Linked DNA regions of Homo sapiens. The protein of the gene in region 1 interacts with the protein of each later gene in a biochemical or structural test. Each region holds a gene or a part of one and is shown on either strand. Other genes may lie near its edges.

What was found.
Region 2: the proteins of NAPA (region 1) and NSF form a complex in vitro, tested with the Homo sapiens proteins (2 studies listed by BioGRID).
Region 3: the proteins of NAPA (region 1) and STX7 form a complex in vitro, tested with the Homo sapiens proteins (one study listed by BioGRID).

The regions. Positions count from the first base shown.
Region 1 is NC_000019.10:47,501,430-47,505,256, forward strand, and holds part of NAPA (alpha-soluble NSF attachment protein), read right to left. Parts: intron 2,074-3,827; coding exon 1,994-2,073; intron 169-1,993; exon of another isoform or gene 28-168; intron 1-27. UniProt on the Homo sapiens protein: Required for vesicular transport between the endoplasmic reticulum and the Golgi apparatus. Together with GNA12 promotes CDH5 localization to plasma membrane.
Region 2 is NC_000017.11:46,588,837-46,592,663, forward strand, and holds the start of NSF (vesicle-fusing ATPase), read left to right. Parts: upstream 1-1,832; 5' UTR 1,833-1,939; coding exon 1,940-1,951; intron 1,952-3,827.
Region 3 is NC_000006.12:132,457,517-132,461,116, forward strand, and holds part of STX7 (syntaxin-7), read right to left. Parts: intron 3,335-3,600; coding exon 3,242-3,334; 3' UTR 1-3,241. UniProt on the Homo sapiens protein: May be involved in protein trafficking from the plasma membrane to the early endosome (EE) as well as in homotypic fusion of endocytic organelles. Mediates the endocytic trafficking from early endosomes to late endosomes and lysosomes.

The DNA.
Region 1 (3,827 bases):
GTTCACATTCTGTTCCCTTCACTGCAGATCCCCATGGACAAGGCACTTGCATGAATTGTGAGGCTCATGGAGTTGGGGTCGGACAACACAGAGCCGGCTCCCTCCAGGAGCTGCATGTCCAGAGAGGGAAACAGGATGTGGACAGCAAGAATGAATACATGCAGACCAGTGCCCATGGGCGGAGGGCAGAAGAGACCGTGCCTGAAGCCTCATCCATCCTGTGCTCATCTGCACACGGTCAGCTTCTGTGGGTCCCAAGCCATTCTGCCCACACATCTCCTAACTGACGTTTGGGAGGCAGCAGCATCTCTCCTCCTCCTCGTGCAGCTGACCACCTCCAGCTCAGCTCTGAGGCTTCTCCCCTTCATTCTCCTCCAGCTGAATCTGAGTCAGAGTTTCTAAGCTGGAAGAGGACCAGGAGGCCTGGCCCTATCCTCTTAAGTTTTGAGCAGCAGAAAAGACAAAGCCTTCCGGGTTTTCACTATATGATTTCATTATTTTCAAGAGTTCCAAATTTGAGTATAAAATTACGGCCAGGCGCGGTGGCTCATGCCTGTAATCCCAGCACTTTGGGAGGCCGAGGTGGGCGGATCACGAGATCAGGAGATGGAGACCATCCTGGACAACATGGTAAAACTCTGTCTCTACTAAAAATACAAAAATAAGCTGGGCGTAGTGGCACGTGCCTGTAATCCCAGCTAGTCAAGAGGCTGAGGCAGGAGAATCACTTGAACCAGGGAGGCGGAGGTTGCAGTGAGCCAAGATCGCGCCACTGCACTCCAGCCTGGCAACAGAGCAAGACTGTCTCAAAAAAAAAAAAAAAAAAAAAAAAAAAAAAATTTCAAGAAAAGGGGATATTACCGGGGGGAAATGGCCTAGGGCTTTTCTTTGAAGAGTTTGGGGGCAGAGGTAACAAATTTTAGGGGAAAAGCAACACCTATGTAATTAAAAAATAAGCTTTTTTTCTCTAGAGGAATTTTCTAAGTTTGGGAGCATAAAAATACAAAAAACATTTGGCTTTATTCACAACGTATTTTGTGAAAACTCAGGAATAACTCTTTGAATTTTGGGGAAACCAACAACATTCTCAAAAACGATGATAATCAATTTTATTGTGCACCTCTGCACCCTGCCTCCATGGTCCCACCACCAGGTTCCCTCTCCTCCACAGTCAGAAGTTCCTCCCTGCATTCAAACACTGGGTCTCTTGCCGTATTTCCTTAATTCAATCTTGGTGACATGAAAGATGTATGATGAAATGAGCCTCGAAAGGGCTCAACACACTGGCTTGTTGGACTTCTTGGGCCTGCAGGGAGCTCCAAACAGATCTCCAGCCTCCCTGAGCCCAAGGGGCTCCTCCCCACCCCTCTCCTCTGTGAAGCTATCCTGCCTCACTGGGGCAGGTTAAACACTCAGGCTCTGCAGTCAGAGCCTTGGTTTCTGAATCTTGGTTCTGTCACTTACTAGTTCTGGCATCCTGGGCAAGAGACTAAGCCAAGCCTCAGTTTCCAAATCTGTAAAATAGGGATATTTATAGACTGACCCTTAGGGCTGCTGTGCTAACGCAATTAAATGATGAGCACTTAGGACTCAACAAACAGCAGCCATGATTCACGTTGTTATTGGAATCACCTGAACATCCTCCCCCAGCCTAGAATTTAGACACTGATGGAAGCACTAAGGAAGTTACCAGGAAACCTGAAGTTCTGAATTTAAGGAGGACTCTAAGAGCTCATCAATCCACATGGGTTTATCTAGGTCTAATAATCTATTTATTCCCATCCTCTCTGTCCTTTCACCAAGGCCCCATGACCCAGAGTATAAAGTAACCCAGCAGGCACAAAACAAGAGAGCAGGCCAGTGGCTTTCCGATGCCGGAGAGGGCATACAAAGAGAAAGGGCCCTCAAGGCCAACCTCTCGGGCAGGCCTGTGTGAGTGGAAGCTGAGGGAGGAGGAGAGCACCTTGGAGGAGCTCTAGCGGAGATGACATACCACTCCAGTTTTTGGCCATTTTGAACATGTTTGCTGCTCTGGCGTAGATTTCGCATGCTTCCTCTATTTTGGATGAGCCTCTGGGGAAAAAGGAAAGAAAAAAAGGAGACAATCTAGTCGGCTATCCAGGAGAAAGCAAGCATTCTGCTCCAGTGCCGGGCACAGACGTGCCCCTACCCCTCACCCTTCACCTGTGAAGCCAGCTTCCCCCAGGCCTCTTGAGTCTGTGGCCCCCGCCCCTGCATACAATGGCACACTCACTTCGGGCAGACCAGCTCCCTCCGGGAGTACTGGGGTAGATACTGGGTGCTTGCTGGGGTAGTGGGGCGAAGAGTTCCTGACCCCACCACAACCCCAGGGTCTGACAGCCTCTTCTACTTCCTGCCTGGGATACTAGGGGCCCACTGGGTCCCAGGCGCGCTACAAATCCCCTTTCCCCGGGAGACTGCAAAGCATTCTGGGGGACTAGCCCAGTTTAAGACATCGTGTTGCTTTCGCAGAGGCAGCCTTAATCCTGTGCCTTGCACTCTGTGGTTGCTCAATAAAGACCTTGCAGCCCTGGAGTGTGTCATTACCAGCTCAGGACTGGGCATATATATCACACAGCCATACAAAGAAATGGGAAGCACTATTTTAAAGTGTAGATATAAGATGTTCCCATTTGTGTTTAAAAAAAAAAGAGGGTGGGCTGGGTGTGGTGGTTCATGGCTCCTGTAATCCCAACACTTTGGGAGGCCAAGGTTGGCGGATTGCTTGAGCTCAAGAGTTCGAGACCAGCCTGGGCCACACGGCAAAACCCCAACTCTACAAAAAATACAAAAAATTAGCAGGGTGTGATGGTGCACGCCTGTAGTCCTAGCTACTAGAGAGGCTGATGTGGGAGGATCACTTGAGCCTGGGAGGCAGAGGTTGCAGTAAGCCAAGATCACACCATTGAACTCCAGCCTGGACGACGACAGAGCCAGACCTTGTCTCAAAAAAAAAAAAAAAAAAAAAAAGAGAAAGAGAGTGAAAATAATAGAAACATACATGTTTATATAAACATAGGATATTTCTGGGCAAATACACAAAAACCTAGTAACAGCATTTTTCTCTTAAGGTGAAGCCTGCAGAAGGAGGGCCAGGTGTGGGAGGCAGACTTATTCACTGGACATCCCGTATTTGTACTGTCTGAATTTTTTTTTAACTGTTTGTACATCTTTTCGAGAAAAAAAATATATACATATATACACACACGTGTACATATATACACATGTGTATATATGTGTATGTGTATATATGTGTGTATATATCTATACATTTACACATACACAGACACACACACACACATATTTTTAAGTATTAGGATTTATATTTGGCCCTGTGGTCCAGCAATGAATTACATCTCTAGCAATTTATCCTAAAAAAACTAATCAGAAAAGTTACAAGGATGTTCAGCATAGCATTATTTAAAACAGCAAAACCCCCCAAAAACTTATTGTCCAACAGTAGGGATACACTGGGAGATAGACAGGAATTTGAAAACATAAAGGGTACCCTGTTTGGGCAGCTTCACTCTGGCTTCTTGACCTCCACATGTACATAATGAGCCTCCTCTTGACTTGGGGGACCTCATTAGTACCTCAAACCCGTAAGTCCCACTGCATTCTTCTGCCCTTAATAATACAACCAGGCTTAGCCCGCGAGGTCTGTAGTCTCTGTAACTGCTCAAACTCCCAATATCTACATAATCAGTAGAATAAAATCCACACACTCTGGAGTCCCACCAAATGGATTTCAGGGCCTCTCTTCACTGGCATAACTAGTGTTTAGTTTATTTTTAAGGAAGAGAAAA
Region 2 (3,827 bases), on another chromosome or scaffold:
AGAGTTCGAGACCAGCCTGGACAACATGGCAAAACCCTGTCTCTACTAAAAATACAAAAATTAGCTGGGTGTGGTGGCAGGCGCCTGTAATACCAGCGACTTGGGAGGCTGAGACAGGAGAATAGCTAGAACCCGGGAGGCGGAGGTTGCAGTGAGCCGAGATCATGCCACTGTGCTCCAGCCTGGGTGACAGAGTAAGACTGCGTCTCAAAAACAAACAAACAAAAACAAATAAGGAAACTGGGCTCAGAGAGATGAAGGTACACAGGTGATGGGTAGATAGGGACAAAGAAAAGAACCTAACCCTTTGGACTCCCCAAGCCATTCTAATATTTGTTTTTGTAAGTTAGTAGCTTCTGCACGTTAGTATGTCAGAACTCAACTAGTTTCCTATCTTTCCTGATAACCTCTCCGACCCACCCATGATTTAGCTAACATCTGATTTGGTCAACCAAGCACCCTGGTCCTCAGGTTCAGTGTGAGACTTAATGAAATAGGCGTGAATTTTTTTTTTTTTTTTTTTTTTTTTAGACGGAGTCTCGCTCTGTTGCCCAGCCTCGCAATCTCAACTCACTTCAACCTCTGCCTCCGGGGTTCAAGCGATTCTCCCACCTCAGCCTCCTGAGTAGCTGAGATCACAGGCGCCCGCCACCACGCCCGGCTAATTTTTGTATTTTTAGTAGAGACGGGGTTTCACTATATTGGCCAGGCCGGTCTGGAACTCCTGACCTTAGGTGATCCACCCAAAGTGCTTGGATTACAGGCATGAGCCACCGCGCCTGGCTGGCATGAATTTTTTCTTCTGTCCCTAGTTCATCTTCAGGTCACTGTCTGATTTTATTAGTTCTCAAATTTAAATCACTATGCATGCTCAGCTCTTCTAGTTATTTCCCTTCTTTCCTCATGTTGGGAAAAAAACCCCGATTTATTCTAATTGTGAGAAATGAAAGCGAACAAATCCTATCATTCCCTATTGTCTTGTGCAAATATGAAGAGAGATATGATAGTGGGGTAAATAAAAGCATCAGGGAATCCATTCGGCAGAATCTTTCTCCTCTCAGCGTGCTTGCAGTTAGATATTCTGAGATTCCAGTGGAGAAATGGTATGGTGGAAACATTGAGGTTCAACAAGGCTCAATTTAGGGCATATTTTATTCAGATTCTACCATATATATTGTCTAAAATGAAACAACACTGGGGAATGAAAAGGTTGGTCGAAGATGCAAGTTGCCTTTATTAAATAAAGACAAATATTTAATAAAAATAATGTATAAAAATAATCACAATTCACTTTCAAATCTGAAAATACTGAGTTTTCCAGGCTACACATAAATAAAACTGCCAACGATGACAATTCCAGCAACTAGGAAAACAAGTACGCCTACAAAGAAAAGTGAGAAAATTCATGGAGAATTTGAACTCAGAACCAACTCCTCGGAGCTGATCTTTTTTGGGGGAAGCCAGGGAACGCGCCGGGCGCTCTCATCAGCAAGACCATGTTTAAAGAGAGTGTGGAAGCACAGACCAAAATGGACATTCGAGGGCGAACAGCAGCTGGCAAAGGGATAAGTGATCCGAAGCATTAAAGCCCTTGAGACAAATTCCGGCGCGAACCGCCAGTGGGGGATGAGACTCGCAGGCGCAGCCCTCCAGGCCCCGGCGGACTGACACGCACGTTGGAAACGGAGTCACCCACCACAGCCCCGCAGCTCCAGCCAAAATGGCGCCGCCGCTCTGCCCACCCCGCGCACCCCAGGCGGCCGCCGAGCCCGCGCGCGCGCCCTGTGGAGCGAGGACGCCGGGGACGCGGCCAGGGACGCGCGCGTCCTCACGGCGGTTGCACGCCTGCGCGAGGGCGGGCGGCGGGGGCGCGCGCGCGGCGGGGGCGGGCTTTGCCGAGCGCAGAGCTGCAGCCGCCGAGCCGGACGTGTCCGCGAAGATGGCGGGCCGGGTGAGTGCCGGTCTGGGAGCCCAGGCTTGAGGCAGGGGCGCCGGGCTCGCGGGCACTCTGGGGTCCAGGCGGCCCCAGAGGAGTGGGAGTGAATCCGAGCAATGGGGCGCGAGGCCAGAGCGGGACTTGAGGGTAGCAGGGGAGCGGTGGCAGGGGATTAGCCCTCCTCAACAACTCCACCCCCCTCGAGGGGAGATGACCCCTCGTTACACGCGTCTGCTGCGCCTCCCGTCATCCTCCCTTCCCATCCCTTGGGGCTTGTTCCCTCGTCCTCCACACAGCCGCAGGGTCGCGGTCGCCGAAGCCCCCTCTGACGGGCTCTGGGGGTCTTTCCGCACCCCCTTGCGAGGGCTTATTAGGGGGCGCCGGAGTAACTGCCGGGAGCACCTCTGCTGCATTCGGGGCAAGGGGTGTAGGAAGGATCTTCAGGAACCCATGTCTGGCTCTTCACAAATTAAAGGTCGTTGGGAAAGAGGAGGGGGTGCCAATGACTTTTAGTGTTAAAGCCCGGCCATCTGGGGGACCTGTCAACTGTCGGGTCAGGCAGGAATTGGCTTTAGCTTGGAGTGAGGATGGATTTGGGGTGTCACGTTTTGTTTTTATGGATGACACTCGCTTCGAATGCAGCAGGATATGCTGTAGTTTCAGGGTTTTAAATTTACTTCCTCCTTTAGCCTTTAGGATCGTTGGGTAGGATGGGTTTGGCGAGGAGAGAGAGCTGGTTGAGTGCTGTATTGCAGTCTGCCTTGAGCTAAAAGCTCTCAAGGGATGAGTCCTGCCCGGAGATTACACTGGTCATAAACCTGAGGACATTAACTGCGTCATTGGGGGTGAAAGATGTGATTGACTGATCTATTTATAACAGAATTTTTGAATAAGTTTGCATAGATTTATGCATATATGCAAATGCCCTATCTGAAGGGACTTGTAGGTCATGAGATTCTAGAGTAAGAAGGGATCTTAAAGGTCATTTAGTTTGGCTTCTTTCTCTTCCTTTTCCCCATGGCCTCTCCTTTTAAGGCTAGTCCTTCTGCCAGTACTTCAGACCCTATCTGTATATTCACCTGCTCCTTCTTAACATAATCAAGCTTCTCTATCTTAAACCCTTCCCCCACCCCCACAGCTGTCACCTTTTCCCGTCCCAGTTTACAGCAGGAAATTTGATAGAGTTGTCTATATTTATTGTCTTCCATTTGCTTACCACCTACTCACCCTTCAACCTACTGCAGTCTGATTTCTGCCCCATCATCCCACTGAAACCTGTCCCTCAACTTAATTGATACCTTTCAATCCTTATCTTATTTGATATCTCAGCAGCGTTTGACGTTGTTGACCATGGCTTCCTTGACGGAAAGCACTCTTCACATGTGTTCTGGAATGCCTCGCTCCTGGTTTGACTCAGACCTCTCTTTTGCGGCCTCACCCTCCTCTACTTTGTTATTCATTGCTGGTATTCCTCAAAGGCCGTCTTCTCACTCTCAATTTCCCGCTCAGGCAATTTCTTCTAAGCCCATAGCTACAACTGTCTATATGCCAGTGATTCTCAATATTTTACCCCCAGTCCAGACCTGCCCTTTAAGTTTCAGGTTAATATGTCCAACTGCTTATTTAAAATCAAGGTCCCGAAACGCAGCTTTTTCAACTCCGAACCCAGGATCTTAGCCCACCTAACTTGTGTAGATACTCCTCGACTTAACGATGGGGCTACCTTCCGATAAACCCATTGTAAGCTGAAAGTATCAGAAGTTGAAAATGCATTTAATACACCCGATCTACCGAATATCATAGCTTAGCCTAGCCTGCCTTCCTTACACATGCACAGAACACTTACATTAGCCTACAGTTGGGCAAAATCATCTAACATAAACCTATATTA
Region 3 (3,600 bases), on another chromosome or scaffold:
CAGTACACTGTAACACTTTCAGGCTCCCATTGGTTTAAAATTTGATAAGTGTATTTCTTTGCTGACAAGTCAAACTGTTCAAATGTTATGGAGGACTAAAAAGGCCTGGGATTCACAGGCTCATTTTTTGTTTTAACTGAATCATGAAAATACACAACTTTTTTTTTTCCAGGAAAGACAGATGTTATTTACCACCAATGAATTTTTATCATATTTAAATGAACTTGAAAATGTCATTCAACTCAAATCCCTCAATCAACTTACTTCAGCCCATTCTGAAACTTCATATTGCAGCAAACCAGCCATGTGAAAGAAATAAATTCAATTTTGACTTTCAAAAAAAATAAATGCTGCATAAGTTACCCTTGTGGACCTTAGCTATTAAGGTGGACAATGACTTTATTTTCTTTACGTAAGTTTTATATTTTATTATGACATTCATTTTTTCTACATGAAGACACAAATAAAAATTATACCAACTACATAAACTATTTTGTACTTTCCTTGCTAAACCACAGATGTATTTCATGGAAAGAGGGGCCTTTAAAGGCACTTATTTATCATTGTAGGTGTGTCTAAACAATTGATATTCAAAAACACAACTTTTTGTGTACAAAATTTTACAATTTTTAACAAAAGCAGTGAAGACACTAAATAACCCAGTGGCGACCTCTTCAAAGTGCAGTGTCCTTGGTCACCAATGCAGATGCTACTGGGGCAGCCAGCGGGCTCAGAGGGTCCAACTCCAGACACTGCATCCATGGCTGTCCTAGACTGAGTTGCACTTGTAAAAGAGATGGTCCCACACCTACTAAAAAAACAAGCTACTCTAGTATCAATATGACATCACTCTTTTACCATCAATCATATTGCAAAACCATAGTATTTAACGACCAATAAACAGCCAAATACCTAATGCCACATTGTCGTTCAATTTACCTGGCTGGTTAATATCAGTCTGTGTTTGAGTATTTCTTTTGAGCACACAAAAACAAATGTATAGTCACTTGATGAGGAAATTCTTCACTTTGACTCAAATGGATTCACCATGCTGTCAGTTATGAAAACAACTCTAATTTTAATCTCCACAGGGCAACCTTCACTTTTCACAGCAGTTCTAAAACTGACCTACAGAAAAGTTCAAGATTTTTTAAAAAATTTGGCTACCATACTATGTTTCTTATTTAATTTTCTCTAATCAATACTACTCTTACGTTCCAAATATTTCATGGGAAATTTTTCCCTCAAACTTAATATGTTTCTTAAACAAATTGAAGCCACTAAAGTTCCTGTTTAAACCACTGATAACTGCCCCAGTTAAAATAATAATAATTTAAAATGATTACACTTCAAATAAAGGTACTAAAATCACGCCCCCCAAATTTGTAAGCGCTTTTGTTGTTATTGGGTACTCACTGTGAATAGAAGTAAATGTACTTGACCTGTATGAGAATAAACATTTTATCAAGTACAGCAAAAAAAACGGAACTGATTGTGAAAGCCATGGGGATGGGACTTTAAAACAGCGGTAAGACGCTGGTTTATCACCAGAAACCTCATGTGCCTCTGTGCACTTGAAGTAAAGACCACATTTGAGCAGGCCTGGTGGGCTGGCACAGGCCTCAGAACAGGTGCTGTTTGTGTGAATTCTCCTCCCTGCATTGTCCATTCTGTTCTAGGGCAGTCTGATTCTGGCAACAGGAGTCTCTAAGTTCCAATCACTCACTCACAAAAGAGTTTTCTGTAATCCCTTTTGTGGAAAAAAATGGAGTTTTTCTGATATGCAAAGCAACTTCTACCAGTCTGACAAAGTAGGTAAAATCGATGACACCCTAAAATAAAAACCTGGAGTGAACTGGTGCTCCAGAAAGATGCTGAATGGCCACAGTGCATGTGGTGATGTCTCCATGCTGAGGTTTCAGGCAGCACAGCACTAAGTATCAGGTGACCTGTGGTCCCACCAGAGCATAGTCCTCATGAAATAGGCCTAACCAGATACCTTTTAACTCATCTTTATTTTGGTTGCAAAGATGTGGTTTACTTAGCTACTTACTATTTGTTCCCATTTGAAGTCTCAGAGCTTGCCAAGTTAAACACCGCCTTCAGTACCGAGCTGCTATACAAGAACATTATAAAATACAAAGTATAAACTAAGATAATCCTCTTTACAGAATTCAGATTAGTGCATTAAAACAACATTGATTTAAAAAGGGAAGTGAGATAACTGGCAAACCTCCAATTGCTTTTTTAATGAAGGATGACACAAAATGGCACGCAAGGTAAACACTAAATTTTGTCAGGTGCTCAAAAACAGTTAATTGTGGGAAAGTTACTTTCCAAAAGTAATTTTGACCTAAAAATATTAACCATTATTCTATAAGACATAAGGGAAGGTAAATAATGGCCCACAAAACCAGATGATATGGTTAAGATAACTAGTTTAGTGGAATAACAAACTGGGGTCTTAAGAATCCAAACGCAATAGGTATTGGTATTGGTTGTTCATACTCTTCTTCCAAATTATGTTAAACATTTTTAGTAACTACACTTTCCCCCGTAAACATCAGACTTAAATAGACCATATGTAAAAACAACCTATCCTTAGTAATTTTACTAGGCAATCTACAGCAAAAGCTTAATATATACACAGAAAGAGTATCAAATAAACTAGAAAAGTATTCACCGACTTCAGGGTAAAAAAGATCTTAAAAGAAAACCAACAAAAAAATGAAAGACACTTTGTGCTGTTGTGAACCAGAAAAATACAACCCATGTATAGACCTTAATTATTTTACATTATTGAGAATATTTTCCCTGCTGAAGCAAATCAAAATTAAATTTGAGAATTTTAATTGAAGTAACACACATCTAGGTGTGTCACAGTGACAGGGAGATGCAAACAGAATACACACACCTTTAAATTTACGAATTCCCAAAACTAAGTCAAGCAGGGTAAATAAATTATAAATGAAAGGCATATGCAATGTGGGCAAAAACTTAACAACTATTAAATTGAAGACCAAGGGAGTTATGTCAGCAGTGACATTTAGAAAATCTTTCAGTATTAGAAAATATCAGATTTAATCCAAAGGAACCACCCCAACCCCCCCAATAAAAATAACAAAGTATGGGAACCATCCTTTATACAATAGCTTTAAAATAATAATTAAAAAAACATGATTACAGGAATCTTCCTACATAATTTAGACAATGTAGTGCGACAGTGTGCTCCTTTATAACTTCAGTGGTTCAATCCCCATATGATGAGACTGATAATCGCAACTCCAATGACAAGGATAAGAATGATGATGCACAGGGTTTTTCTGGATTTGCGCTGCAGACGCAAAAAACAAAACAAAACAAAAAAACATGTTTACAGATTTAGTGGAGTACCTCTACAGCAACTAAAAATAATTTGGTTCATTTCTAGAGTAAAATCAGTAGTAGTATATTGCCCTCAAATTTTTGACTGTGTTTTTTTGTTCCTCAAAAATCTCTTTAATACATATGGCACTATTCTTTCAAAAAAATTCTTGAACTAATGCTACAATTAAGGGAGCAATTTTTCAACTTTCATTGGTAATTTTTCTAAGGGTGTGG